Linked DNA regions of Homo sapiens. The protein of the gene in region 1 interacts with the protein of each later gene in a pairwise test. Each region holds a gene or a part of one and is shown in the gene's direction. Other genes may lie near its edges.

Evidence for each region. Proteins that work in one complex are often made in the same cells at the same time.
Region 2: the proteins of ZNF12 (region 1) and DCLK3 interact in a two-hybrid assay, tested with the Homo sapiens proteins (one study listed by IntAct).

Annotation. Positions count from the first base shown.
Region 1 is NC_000007.14:6,703,944-6,711,637, reverse strand, and holds the start of ZNF12 (zinc finger protein 12), read left to right. Parts: upstream 1-4,690; 5' UTR 4,691-5,206; intron 5,207-6,414; 5' UTR 6,415-6,464; coding exon 6,465-6,479; intron 6,480-7,694. UniProt on the Homo sapiens protein: Transcriptional repressor which suppresses activation protein 1 (AP-1)- and serum response element (SRE)-mediated transcriptional activity.
Region 2 is NC_000003.12:36,761,533-36,769,009, reverse strand, and holds the start of DCLK3 (serine/threonine-protein kinase DCLK3), read left to right. Parts: upstream 1-4,456; 5' UTR 4,457-4,746; coding exon 4,747-4,828; intron 4,829-7,477.

The DNA of each region.
Region 1 (7,694 bases):
TGGATAAACACCTCCCGGGAAATAGAGATGAATAGAAAGGAAATAGTCAAACTAGCAGAATGGCTGCATTCCTTCAACCAGAAGGGTCCATTAGTCTGTTTTCATACTGCTATAAAGAACTACCTGAAACTGGTTAATTTATGAAGAAAAGAGGTTTAATTGACTCACAGTTCTGCAGGCCGTACAGGAAGCATGGCTGGGGAGGCCTCAGGAAACGGACAGTCATGGCAGAAGGCGAAGTGGAAGCAGGCACGTCTGGCTATGGTGGAGCGGGAGAGACAGAGAGAATGAAGCGGGAGGTGATGCACGCTTTTCAACAACCAGATCCCACGAGGGCTCACTCACTACCAAGAGAACAGCACGGGGGAAGATGGTCCCCATGAGCCAATCACCTCCCACCAGCTCCCTCCCTCAACACTGGGAATTACAATTTGACATGAGATTTGGGTGGTGACACAGAGCCAAACTGTATCAAGGGTAGTTGAACCACCGAGATTTATTTATTTGTTTATTTATTTAGAGACAGAGTCTCGCTCTGTCACCCAGGCTGGAGGCTCACTGCAACCTCCGCCTCCCGGGTTCAAGCAATTCTCCTGCCTCAGCCTCCCGATTAGCTGGGACTACAGCACATGCCACCATGCCTGGCTAATTTTTGTATTTTTAGTAGAGATGGGACTTCACCATGTTGGCCAGGCTGGTCTCCAACTCCTGAGCTCAGGTGACCCGCCTGCCTCGGCCTCCCTTTTGCTAAGATTACAGGCATGAGCCACAGTGCCTGGCCAACCACTGAGATTTAGAAAGCAGTCGAGTCCACTATACCGCACCTCACCTGGTTTCTTCCTCTGTTGGGGCCCCTCGTGGCCACTGTTCTCCTGGTACTTTTCAGTCCTGTTTATTTAAATTGATGGTGAGCTGTTTGTCCTCCCGGCTCCAACACTTCCACCTTCAGCTTGTATTACCACAACAATACCAGCCCTTCAAGCAATTCTGGGTGACCCCAAAACTCATTTGAACTCAGCAGCCCAAGAGTTTCATTCCTCTAACTTTAGGGGACTCAGTGCCTCTGGTCAGCATGAAGTAGATACAGAAGCATGACCTCCATCCCTAATCCCTCAAGAATGAGGAGTGGAAGGTGTCGGCAGGAGGGTGGGGACACGGTTTGTAAATCTGGAACTGCATCAGACTAAATCTAGTTCAAGTTTTTTTTTTTTTTTGACGGAGTTTTGCTCTTGTCACCCAGGTTGCAGTTTAATGGCGCGATCTCGGTTCACTGGAACCTCCGCCTCCTGGGTTCAAGAGATTCTCCTGCCTCAGCGCATCACCACCCCTGGATAATTTTTGTATTTTTAGTAGAGGCGGGGTTTCACCATATTGGCCAGGCTGGGCTGGAACTCCTGACCTCGTGATCTGCCTGCCTCAGCTTCCCAAAGTGCTGGGATTACAGGTGTGAGCCACCACACTCCACGTCCATTTCAACTTTTATGTAATGTAGTTGGCAGTTGTTTTTCAACTGCCATGGATCCGTGGGTTGAAGGTCATATACTCTGAGCATGCCCAGATTAACCAAGCATGCAACCACGAAGTGGAACCTAAGTGCTCGGACTGAGGAGCTGGGACCCATTTAAGAACCGGACACCCTGTGGCAGGAGCCAGGAACCAATGAGATTGAGTTTTGGTGTCACTCCATGGCAGGATCCAGTCAGATCACACCTCCCAGCATTAATTACTTCATCTCAAGATCCAATCAAATCACATCTCCTTACCCTATGCGTACAAAACCTGACATAGCCCCCAGCTGGGAAAGGGAGATTTGAGCATTTCCTCCTGTGTCCTTGCTAGTTGACTTACAAAAAGGCTTTATTTCTCAAAAGCTGGAGCCATGGTATTGGCCTCTGTACACACTGGGCAGCGAGTGCATTGACTGCTCGGTAACATATATGTGGACTACATGCGGACTCGCATTTCCAAAACATTTGATTTGGTTTCAGTAAAAAATACCTTTCTAGCACATTAAAGCAACAGAAGTTCAATTTCTCTTTTTTTCTAAGAATTTGGGCAAATTCAATTTATATAAGTACATACACACCTCTACAAGCCAATCAGAACAGCAAACCTTTAAAGACTCTATATTGTGGCTCATGCCTGTAATCCCAGCACTTTGGGAGGCTGAGGTGATCAGATCGCTTGAGCCCAGAAGTTCGAGACCATCCTGGGCAACATGGCAAAACCCCATCTCTATAGAGAATACGAAAATTAGTTGGGTATGGTGGTACACACCTGCAGTCCCAGCTAATTGGGAGGCTGAGGTGGGAGGAACACCTGAGCCCAGGTAGGTTGAAGCTGCAGTGATCCGTGATCGCACACACTGCACTTCAGCCTGGACGACAGAGTGAGACCCTGTCTCAAAAACAAACAAACAAACTCTATATCTACTATAATACCATTCAGAGGTGGAAAAACATTAGACACTCACACAATCAGAGGTAAAGACCTTTCTAAATTACAGACACACAGACATACAAAGAAATAGAGCTTACAGCTTCAATTCTAAAATTTCAGACATGGGTCAAGAGTAAACACAAAAATGCAAAAACTCACCCTTCCAGATATGAAAGAGCTCTTCTCCTCCCAGTGGGCATGAAATTCTTAATTGATTTCAGCTCAAAATAGACAGAGAAATAGAATAACAAATCAGACTCTGATGTCTCTCACCCAACAGAGATTAGGTCTTTGCAAACATTAATCTCATTACAGAGATCACCATGTGATCAGACCATAAAACCAAATTCCTAGCCCAGCGCGGTGCTTCACGCCTGTAATCCCACCACTTTGGGAAGCTGAGGCGAGTCTACCACCTGAGGTCAGGAGTTCGAGACCAGTCTGGCCAACATGGAAAAACCCCGTCTCTACTAAAAATACAAAAATTAGTCGGGCATGGTGGCATGCACCTATAGTCCCAGCTACTCAGGAGGTTGAGGCAGGAGAATCACTTGAACTTGGGAGGCAGAAGTTGCAGTGAGCCGAGATCGTACCCCTGCACTCCAGCCTGGGCGGCAGAGTGAGACTTTGCCTTGAAACAACAAAAACAAACAAAGTCCCAATCAGTGATGCTAGCAATGTAAACAAATGCAAACCAAAGTAAAACACAGGATTGGTAAATGGGGAAATTACTGAAAAATGAGAAGCCAGCAAATTTCTACTGGCACTTTGGACTCATTCCTGGGAGCCAAGAAAAGATTCACCTGGGCTTCAACAGTTCATGAGGCACTCCAGTCCTGAGGTTTTCCTGGCTCAGTCATGTGATTCCATCAGGGACTTCTGCAAAGACCTGGAAAACCTTAAAACATAAAAGTAAAATCATGACTCTGATACAGATATAAAAATGAGCACATGCTAAAGATTTTATTTAATTCAAGAGGAAACAGGCAGATATTATAACTGGTTCAAAAGAGAATCTGAGGGCTGGACATGGTGGCTCATGCCTGTAATCCCAGCACTTTGGGAGGCTGAGGCGGGTGGATCACTTGAGGTCAGGAGTTTAAGACCAGCCTGGCCAACATGGTGAAACCCCCATCTCTACTAAAAATTCAAAAATTAGTCGGGCTTGGTGGTGTGCACCTGTAATCCCAGTTACTTGGGAGGCTGAGGCAGGAGAATTCCTTGAACCAGTGAGCCAAGATCTCGCCACTGAACTCCAGCATGCACAGCAGAGTGAGACCCTGTCTCAAAATTAAAAAAAAAAAGAGAGAGAGAGAGAGAATCTGAGAAACAGACATATTTTCAGATCAGGAATATTGAAATGATTATGTAAATGGAGAAATGCAGTCAAAACTGCATTTTCTCTAGTGGGGATTGTGGGAAGTCAACCAACTTCCACCAGACAGAACATAACTTGCATCGATTACCTACAGTTTTCAAAGAGGTGTAAAATACCTCAAAGATAAGGAACAGGGTTGGAATCAAGTAACATGGCTTTCTAAATGTGCTTCGTTTTCCATTAAGACGCAAATTTCTTCTTCTGCTTGCCTCATCCTCTTCAGGAAGTAGAGTTCTGGCTAATTTTTTTCTTCTTTCAATTCTGTACATATTCTCTGAGTTTTCTAGCTATCACTAATTCAAAGTGATTTGGAAAAGCTGGAATTCTTTTTCTCCTTGTTGGGGCGAGGATGGTATCCTGTCCCAGGCTAATCCTCTATTATTTCATCCATGGGCTCTATTTACTGAAGTTTTCGTTAAATGTGTCATTGTGATCATAAGCTAGCATGATGCACCCTCTTGTTCCATTTGTCACGGTTGCACATGGACATTGATTTTAAGCCTTGAGCTCTCCGGTAAGGCAGGACTGGCCCAGGCATGGTCTACGAGATGCTACAGGAAGCAGAGACTTTCTAGACGTTCCCTTAAAGATAGTCAAGACATCCCCATGAAGACGTTCCCTTAAACTAAGGAGAAATTTGAGTCTGGGGTTCGGCGTTGCCAATTCTCTTAGCATAGAGCCTCTTAACCGCTAGACCAGATAGAGACATTTCAAATGGCTCCTAAATTTGGGGAGCGCGTAGGCTCATGGGAAATAGAGTCACGGTATTTGTCCTGGGACCGGCGGCGGGTCCCGGGAGGCGGACTTCCGGTGCATTCCTGCGCATGTGCACCCCTCTCTGTGTGCGTGTTCGCGCATGCGCGCCGCGGCCGCAGTGCCCTCGCTTCCTGTGCGTCCCCAGGTCACCGCTCGCCCTAGTTCCCAGGCTTTGGCCTCCGGTGGGCGAGAATCGCGGAGCCTGCGGGGCTGGGCGCCGAAGAGCCGGGCCGGCACCCAAGCGGGCGCGGGGCTGTGCGGGCCAGGCGGAGGCTCAAGCGGGGATCCCCGAGCACGACCCCCGGAGCCGACGGCGCTGGGGCCCAAGGGGCCGGCCGGGCGGTGACGACGGCGGAGGCGAAGGGGCGGCGGGACCCGGGCCCGGCCCGTGTGCGTCCTCGACGGCCCGGCCCCGGCTCCGCAGGACGGTGAGCCCCAGGGAGACGGATCTGGGCTCCGGGAGGGACGCCCCGCCTGGATTTGTCCCGTAGGCCCGGCCCGGGCCCCTCTGGAGCAGAACGGCCTTGGTGAGGTGGACAGGAAGGGACCTCGCGAGCAGACGCGCGCCCGCGACAGCAATCCCGCCCCGGCCTGTCGGGAGCGGTGGGGCAGAGGCTGCGGAGCCCCAGGAGGGTAAGTCGTGGGTTTGCGGGCCCGGGGCGAGAAGGGCCTGGGTGAAGTCACCGCGTGTAGGGCACCTTAGAGTGAGGGACAGTGGAAGGTCTCGATCGCTTGCAGGAGTGACGTGTGTTTGGGTTTGAAGGCAGGGTCCGGCGAGGACGAGGCTTACGGGGGCGTGGGGGGTGTCACCAGCCTCAGCTGCGGACGTTGTCTCCACTCCCCCCTCACCCCAGCAGCCCTTCCTCCTCTCTCTGCTCCAGATTGCTACCGTATCTAAACGTCCGTCAGCACCTCTGTTCTCTCATTTAAGTGCTGATTCCCCCTTAGGTCTGCTCTTGTGGAATCATACGTTGTAGTGCAGGAACAGCCTGCAGGAACTATCTCTTGCTGCCTCATTTGCTAGGGGAAGGGCCTTAGCAGGTGGGTGACTTGTCCGAGGTTTTGTGGGTGGAGTTGCTCATAGTAGAACTCTGGAGTTTTATCTCCCAGGCCAGTGTTCTGTCCCCCGTATCCTAGTTAAGTGAGCGTAAGTTCTTCAATAAAAGATCCTTTTGAGTAGCACACTGAAGTTTCTGCAAATAAAGACTCAATTATGCCGACTGTATTCCTTTATTTAGGGCATCCTGTGGATTTTCTGATCTTTATTTAAAAGAGTAAGAAAATAGATGAGTATTACAGAATTCATTTTTTGTTGTTTGTTTTTTGTTTGTTTGTTTGTTTGTTTTTGAGACAAGTTTCGCTTTGTTGCCCAGGCTGGAGTGCAATGGTGCCATCCCAGCTCACTGCAACCTCCGCCTCCCGGGTTCAAGCGATTCTCCTGCCTCAGCCTCCCGAGTAGCTGGGGTTACAGGCGCCCGCCACCACGCCCAGCTAATTTTTGTATTTTTACTAGACATGGGGTTTCACCATGTTGGCCAGGCTGGTCACCAGAATTCCTTTTTAAATCTTGCATTTAATGATGGCAGATTATTTCAGTAGGATCCAGTATTCATTCACCATGAGAATCTCATCCACTCAGTCACAAGGTAGCCATGTGTGAGTTTCAAATGTGCAGATCGGTCCCCCTCCTGATCATTTTCCAATCCCTTCTGAAGGCTTAAAGGGACAGTCTCCCACAAGATGTACTTCTTGGAACTTTCTGTGTAGGTTTTGGGCGGGAGATGACCGCCTTGGCAGGCCAGACCGCTCATAACGCCATGGCTTGGGTTTTCCTTCCCCAGATCTGCCTCCGCTTTCACAGTCCTCCAGATTTTTCCAAGAGCAGCAGAAAATGAATAAATCCCTGGTGAGTGTTTCTGTTCATGTATTTATTCTCTACTCTGATTTACAATACACCTTAGGAGGAGATTAAGGGTTCAAAGTTTAAAATGGGAAAGTAGAAATAGATACAAGATTTGGTCAGACAGAACAGTAGCCATCAGCACCAAGCCTTTTTATCATATTCATATGCGCAGATAGCGTGATCCTTAAAGAGTTCTTGAAGTCAGAGTACAAGCGTCTTATGTTCTTGGCATTTATCACAAAAAATGATAAATACCATCCATTCCTTGACTTACATTGACCGTAAGCAGAATCACTTTTGTTTTTGCATGAATTTTAAAGATTCCTCTGAGATCATTATCAACAGCTTTCCTAAATAATAACCCTTGAACCATTGCAATTCTTGCCTTTCTTTTTTTTTTTTTTTTTTTTTTTTTTTTTTTGAGACCAAGTATTGCGCTCTGTCACCAGGCTGGAGTGCAGTGGCGCTATCTCAGCTCAGTGCAACCTCCACCTCCCAGGTTCAAGTGATTCTCCTGCCTCAGCCTCTGGAGTAGCTGGGATTACAGGCATCTGCCACCACACCCGGCCTTTTTTTTTTTTTTTTTTTTTTTTAAAGTAGAGACAGGGTTTCACCATGTTGGCCAGGCTGCTCTCGAACTCCTGAGCTCAGGTGATCCACCCGCCTCGGCCTCCCAAAGTGCTGAGCTTACAGGCATGAGCCACTGCGCCCAGCCCATAATATTTCTAGTAACTAAAACATTGTTGTCTCAAAGGTAGATTCTTTTTACTGCTCTATCCGTTGCAGAAATGGCCTTCTCACCCTTAAATTAGTCTCCCTAAATATTTTCTTTTCTTTTTTTTTTTTAAAGATGGAGTCTCACTCTGTTGCCCAGGCTGGAGTGCAGTGGCGCTATCCCTGATTCAAGCGATTCTCCTGCCTTAGCCTCCCGAGTAGCTGCGATTACAGGCACCTGCCACCACACCCAGCTCATTTTTGTATTTTTTTAGTAGAGACGGGGTTTCAGAAGCACTTGGGCCAAGCTGGTCTCGAACTCCTGACCTCAAGTGCCAAGTGATTTGCCCACCTTGACCTCCCAAAGTGCTGGGATTATAGGTGTGAGCCACCATGCCAAGCCGCCTCCCTAAATATTTCTCTTAGTTTATCTGGGTTGCACAGCAGAAAGGACCATAATAAATCTCTGGCATAGATGCCCATTTTATCCCATAGCCTGTGGTC
Region 2 (7,477 bases), on another chromosome or scaffold:
CAGGAGGCTGAGGCAGGAGAATCACTTGAACCTGGGAGGCAGAGGTTGCAGCAAGCCGAGATTGCGCCATTGGACTTCAGCCCGGGCAACAAGAGCGAAACTAAGTCTTAAAAAAAAAAAGGCCTCACTCACTGCCGACCTGCCTCGCCACGCCCCGGGCATGCCCTGCCACCACCTCACAGAAATGCTTCGGTTCCCCACTGTCTTTAGATAAGACCATTGTCCAGGGTATTGGTTCCTCATCTCACTCGGGCTTATGCCAAAGATGTAAAATTCAGTGCAGATGCCTGAGCCTTAATGCTTCAAGGTGTAGACCTTTTAGTCGATGCTGTAGCCATTACAATGGGGCCAAAGGGAAGAACAGTGATTATTGAGCAGAGCTGGGGAAGTCCCAAAGTAACAAAAGATGGTGTGACTGTTGCAAAGTCAATTGACTTAAAGAATAAATATAAAAATATTGAAGCTAAACTCGTTCAAGATGTTGCCAATAACACAAATGAAGAGGCTGGGGATGGCCCTACCACTGCTACTGTACTGGCATGCTCTATTGCCAAGGAAGGCTTTGAGAAGATTAGCAAAGGTGCTAATCCAGTGGAAATCAGGAGAGGTGTGATGTTAGCTGTTGATGCTGTAATAGCTGAACCTAAAAAGCAGTCTAAACCTGTGACCACCCCTGAAGAAATTGCGCAGGTTGCTACAATTTCTGCAAGTGGAGACAAAGAAATTGGCCATATCCTCTCTGATGCAGTGAAAAAGGTGGGAAGAAAGGGTGTCATAACAGTAAAGGATGGGAAAACACTGAATGATGGATTAGAAATTATTGAAAGCTTGAAGTTTGATCGAGGCTATGTTTCTCCATACTTTATTAATACATCAAAAGGTCAGAAATGTGAATTCCAGGAGGCATATGTTCTGTTGAGTGAAAAGAAAATTTCTAGTGTCCAGTCCATTGTACCTGCTCTTGAAACTGCCAGTGCTCACCGTAAGCCTTTGGTCATAATCACTGAAGATGTTGGTGGAGAAGCTCTAAGTACACTTGTCTTGAACAGCCTAAAGATTGATTTTCAGGTTGTGGCAGTCAAGGCTCCAGGGTTTTGTGACAAAGAACCAGCTCAAAGATATGGCTGTTACTACTGTTGGTGCAGTGTTTGGAGAAGAGGGGTTGATCCTACATTTTGAAGATGTTCAGCCTCATGACTTAGGAAAAGTTGGAGAGGTCATTGTGACCAAAGATGATGCCATGCTCTTAAAAGGAAAAGGTGGCAATGCTCAAATTGAAAAACATATTCAAGAAATCATTGAGCAGTTAGATGTCACAACTAGTGAATATGAAAAGGAAAAACTGAATGACTGGCAAAACTTTCAGATGGGATAGCTATGCCAAAGGTTGGTGGGACAAGTGATGTTGAAGCGAATGAAAAGAAAGACAGAGTTACAGATGCCCTTAATGCTACCAGAGCTGCTGTTGAAGAAGGCATTGTTTTGGGAGGGGGTTGTGCCCTGCTTTGGTGCATTCCAGCCTTGGACTCATTGACTCCAGCTAATGAAGATAAACTAATTGGTATATAAACAATCAAAACAACACTCAAAATTCCAGCAATGACCATTGCTAAGAATGCAGGTGTTGAAGGATCTTCGATAGTTGAGAAAATTATGCAACGTTCCTCAGAAGTTGGTTATGATGCTACTAGGGTCGGAGATTTTGTGAATATGGTGGGAAAAGGAATTATTGACCCAAGAAAGGTTGTGAGAACTGCTTTATTGGATGCTGCTGGTGTGGCCTCTCTGTTAACTACAGCAGAAGTTGTAGTCACAGAAATTCCTAAAGAAGAGAAGGACCCTGGAATGGGTGCAATGGGTGGAATGGGATGTGGTATGGGAGGGGGCATGTTGTAACTCCTAGAATAGTGCTTTACTTTTATTAATGAACTGTGACAGGAAGTCAAGGCAGTGTTCCTCACCAATAACTTCAGAGAAGTCAGTTGGAGAAAATGAAGAAAAGGCTGGCTGATGTTTAAGAAATCATTATAACCATCAGTTACTGGTTCAGTTGACAAAATATATAATGGTTTACTGCTGTCATTGTCCATGCCTATCAATACTTTATTTTGTATTTTTGAATAAAAAGACATTTGTACATTCCTGATATTGGGTACAAGAGTCATGTACCAATGTACTGCCTTCAACTTAAATAACTGAGGCATTTTTACTACTATTCTGTTAAAATCAGGATTTTAGTGCTTGCCACCACCAGATGAGAAGTTAAGCAGACTTTCTGTGGAGGGTGAGAATAATTATGTACAAAGTAGAGAAATATCCAATTATGTGACAACCTTTGTGTAATAAAAAATTGTTTAAAGTTAAAAACAAAACAAAACAAAAAAGAAAAGAAAGAAAAAGAAAGATGGCCAAGCCTAAAGTCAAGGTACAGGGAAACACACTCCAAGTACCATAAAGGGTGGATTGTCCAATTCAATTGAGGAATGGAGTGAATAACTGAAATTAATAATCTCACCTACCACATCATTATACCTGGATTCCAGGACGAAGGAAAAGGGACAAAGGAGTGCATCTGTCAGCCAAATCAGCATCTTTAAGGCATCTACTGAAAATCCAATACAACACTTACAATTATATTTCATTGGCCAGAAACTTTTCATATCATCACTCCTTGCTGCAAGGGAGGCTAGAAAATGTATTTTTTTTAAATTGCAGGTGGTAGTATGCTTAGCTAAAAAACATTTTTTTTAAAATACCGGATCAGAAATGAAAATAGGTGTTGAGTAGGCAATTAGCAATTTCTTTGCCAATATTCAACAAGATATATCCCTCACTCTTGTGAAGTAATCTGATAACTTAAGGTGTTCATTGTGATTGCTTGATATGTGTATATCTAGTTCGTATTTAAATCATGATAATCCAGCCAATAATTAAACACTGTGAGATTGCTGCTTTTGCAAGGAAGAAAACACAAGTCATCTGATCTCTCCTTTACAAAGCTTAAACCTTTTTACTAAAACTCAGTTTATTTAACTTTTATTTTCTCCTAAAATATAGGTGATAGGGCCAGGAAGAGTGGCTGTTAAAGAGAAAAGTAAGTGATTTTAAAAAGAAAGTGTGTAAGTATCTCAAGGACACTTGTCTCCCAGAGAGATTTCCAATAGGTTCTTCCTTCGGGTTTTTACTCAAATGTTACCTTTCCCAACCACTCAACTTACATAATCACATTCCCTTTTTCTTGGTTCATTTTTCTTCATACTATTTATCACCATACTTGTGTATTTTATTATCTGTCTCCCCCTACTAGAAGGTGAGTGACTTGAAGGCAGGGCATTTGTTGTGTTCACCATTGGTGAACTGGATTGCTGAAAACTGTCCTTGATGATGACTTCAGAGTACCTGGCCAACAAACCAGCTAGAACCAGGAGTTATTTTTTGCACAGCAGCATCATGGCATGGCTGTTGCAGCCATTTTGGAACCTTGAGGCAACAAGTCTGAGGAGAAAAGGCAAGATGTTGAAGGTGGCCATGTGGAATCATGGAAAGAGACTGAGTCCTTAACGTCATCCCTGAGCAGCTGAACACACACAGAGGAGCCTTCTTCCAGGCTTCTTGTTATGTGTGATAAAGAGAAAGACAGCCCCTGCCATCTGGGAGCTGGTCTGGTTCTATCAGCTCGGCCTTGGCGTTCTGTTGAGCATAAACAATTTCACAGAACAGCAACATCAGACCCAACAGACAAGACCACTTTGTGACTTGATTGATAAAGGCAAAAGCCAGACCACTCTGTAATCATGTCAACGGCCCTGTGGAGAGAAGGGTATGGCTGATCCAGTGAATTTATTATCTGACGCAGGAGAGATCTGGGAGTCAGTACCCGGGAATATGGGTCCCCAGACCCCGCACTGCAGACCTGAGGGACCTGCAAATATGAGGAACAGGTGTGTGGTGCTGGGAAGAGGTACAACAAAGCAAGGGGCCATCGAGCTGCCTTCAGATGGTACCAAGAAGCCACTAGGCTGGAGGAACGTTTTGCAGCCTAAGTCTTTGAGACCATGGGTGTGGACCAGAGTGTAAGCAGGTCTCTGAATCTGGGGGGCAACAAGGGTGTTAGAGTAGAACGGCCCTGGGACCTACGGTCAGTGTATCCAAGGAGCGGGAATGGGATAGGAGGAAGGAAGTGGTGTGGAAAGTCTGGCCCCTGCCCTGCAGGGAGGCACGAGGATGGCTGGTGGTCCTGGGGTCGCCTTTGGGCTGCCACCCACCCACAGAGAACAGGGGCAAAGCGCACGTTCAAAACCCAGCGCAGCCAGGTTCCACCGCGGAACTGCGCGGGGAAGGAGAGCAGAAAGGCTGGACTCCGCTGACCGGGGAGAGGCGGGACCGCCTTTGGGCGCTCACTGGAGAAGCAGGGGGTGTGGGAGCAAGTTCAAAGCCCGGCCCCGCCCGGCCTCCAGGGCCAGGAGCGGCGCGCATGGCGGGACCGGCGCAGAGAGGGCGGCTGCAGCTGGTGCGCGGTTGCTAAGTCCCGCGCCCCCGGAGACGTTCCCGGTGGCTGTCGCCGGGCGCTGCGCGGCGCGGGGCTGGCAGGCGGGCGGCGGGCGGCGGGAGGGAGAGAAGAGGGAGAGTCGGCGCGGGCTCGTGGCTGCTCGTCTCGCCCCGCCTTCCCGCGCCTGCTCGACCGTCGAGCCGCGTCCCCGCGCTGCCACCTCTGCTCCAGGCTCTCCCCGAGCCCGCCGCCGCGCCATGCCCGCCGCCACTCCAGCCCCGCAGCCGCCGCCGCCCCCGGCCCGGCCAGCCCCAGCCTGCCCGGCGCGGCCTGCCCCGGGTGAGTACCGTGCGCTCCGGCACCGACCCGTTCTGGGCGCCACCTTGGCGGGGGCGGGAGGACTCATTCGCCCTAACTCTGGACCCCGCTCCGTGCGGGATGTAGCAGCAGTGCCAGACCCCGCGTGGGTGTACGGAGGACTGTGTGTGTGTATGTGTGTGTACGTGTGTATGTGTGTGTACGTGTGTGTAAACGCGCGCGCGTGCGGGTGTACACCACCTGAAACCTGCTTTCTAGGGGAATAACGCTCTCCGGAGCTGATTTTATTTCCCTCGCCAGCAGGGGGGCCCTTCCTGGGAAACGCACTGGGTGTCTTTCAAGGTGCAGGTGCGGTGAGGCTGCAGAAGGGAGAAGGCGCAGGGAGGGAGCTGACATTTATTGTGCAACTCAACATGCCAAGCGCTTCACCTAGAGTTAAGCGTATTTCATCCTCTCCACAAATCTGTAAAGAATGGAATTATCCCCATTTCTCAGATGAGAAAACTGAGGCCCACAGAGCTCGTGCCTTGCCCAGGGTCACACGGCTCCATAGCAGCGGAGCTGGAGTTGGATCCAGGTCTCTAGAGGTCTCTGACCCATCTAAATGACAAGAAACCCTCCTTAGAACTAAAGAAACACAGAAGAACCAAAGATGATTAGGAAAAAGGATACAGGCAGAGCATTTGGGAATTAATATAAAAAAATCTGAGCTCGTGAAATATCCTATCAATTAATTTCAAATATAGGATCACATTTACACTCCTTTCCATGTCTGGCCCTGGGGGCGAGGTGTGGTGAGGAAGGGAGAAGGCTGTGCCAGTCCTTGGCAGAGGCGTCTGGGGACACCTTTTCAGAGTATCTGCCTGCTGGGAGGGGGGAAGTGTGTGAGAAGTTGTGGAGGGAACTCCGTTGTTATTCAATCCTAACAGTTAGTCATTCCTCCACCTCACCCCCTCCTAGTTGATTCCATTTCCTTTCCTTGATGTATTGTCCAAGATGACAGCTGTTAAATTGAAGCAGGGTCCCACCTTCATCATTGGCTGTCATAAAACCTCTTGGCATTAATTAGGTGGCCCTGCACTTTGATGATTGTATTAGGAGCTGTGAAGTGTCTGTGTAACTGCTTACAGTGGAGATCTGTTGGGCTGATGTTGAGCTAATGATCTTGATCAATGAGGCATCTACAGCAATAGGCAAGCATTGTGCTTATCCTTAGGATAAAGTAGCAAGAAGCAAGACCCTCAGGAAGAAAAAAAAAAAGAAAAGAGTATTGGGTTTGCCTCACAGCCCAACTTTAGAAAAGCATTTCAATTTAATATTTAAATTGCTTCACTGAAGAAAGAACAAAGAGGGGCAGAAAGTGTTTTCTGAAAGATGTTCTGTAACTCCTTTCATTTAGGTTTGAAAGATTTTTGAGTCATGTTCTTTTATGGTGAGCTTTGCCATCTTGGTGCGTATTGGTACCCTGGGTGCCTTCACTTCCAATTGCCAGTCCCTCCATCTCTTTGTTGGAGGATGACCCTTGGGCGGCAGAGCCTATGTTTGTAGGGACTCAGAACAGGGAGTGCCTGGGAATTTACATCTCCCCTGGGGCAGCCCCTCCTCAATGACTGATGGGTGCTGGAGTATAAATAGTCCAGCTTCTTTGCCCTTGATTGGGACACTCTGAAGCATGACATCCTTTGTTTCCAGAGATCCAATGTGGAGTTGTGTCAAATTGACCTCTATGGTTCTTTGCTTGGCTTGTTTCCCTCGCTTGGCTTGCTACTTTTTCTTGTTTTACTTCTTCACATCCCTACCATTTTTTCCTAGGAATATCTCCTAATACACTTTCATAGGAATTCTTATCTCAGGATCTGATTCTAAGGAATCCAGATAAAAACATGGACCCTTCTCACTGTCAATGTTTTTATTCTTCCTATGTTATCCAAACATGACTAACATCGGTAATAGGTAGCCCATGCTAACCTGTAGGGTGCCTTTGTATGAATTCACAAAAGGTGTTCCCTTCTGGGCAGATGGATCCCCATGCCCAGGCAACGGATTGGCAGACAGGTGTTCAGTGTCCACTAGCCCCCTGATCAGTGCTTCTTTGGCAGTGCACACAGTACTCAATGATCATGGTGGCGTGGTGCTCAGAAAAGCAAAAAACAGAGTTGCTTAGTTGTCCCAGGATCTCATTTCTGGCTTCTCTTTTTTCCCAAGAAAAAATCCCCCAAAGAGGGATTTTCCCCTTTTTTCCCCTAAATATTTGAATATTTCAGGCAGATGTTTTGGTTTTCTTTGGACAAGCCAGTCTTAGTTTCTTTCTAAAGCCAACAAAGGGGAGGAAAAGGGCTGCTTTGGCTGGTGGAATCTCAATCCTGCAGCCTGCAGGCGGGTGGTGGTGCCTGGTCAGGGAGGGTGGGTAGGTCTCCACCAGCCTCCAGAAGTTCTCAGAGGGGTCTTGTCTTGACGGTGAGGTTACTGGGTAGGGGCTTGGATGGGCTGCTTTAGTTGGAGGCTCTTGCTTGAAGACGTTTTCCTTTCCTTGGATCCAGGAGGGTCATTGTATCTGATCTGGCATCCTGAGTTTCCTCACCTTTTCCTTTGGTGGCCTCTTGATAATGTCTAAATTTTGCCCGTCTGCTGGTGGAGCAGAGCCCCTTTTGAAGATGCATACGTGGGGGA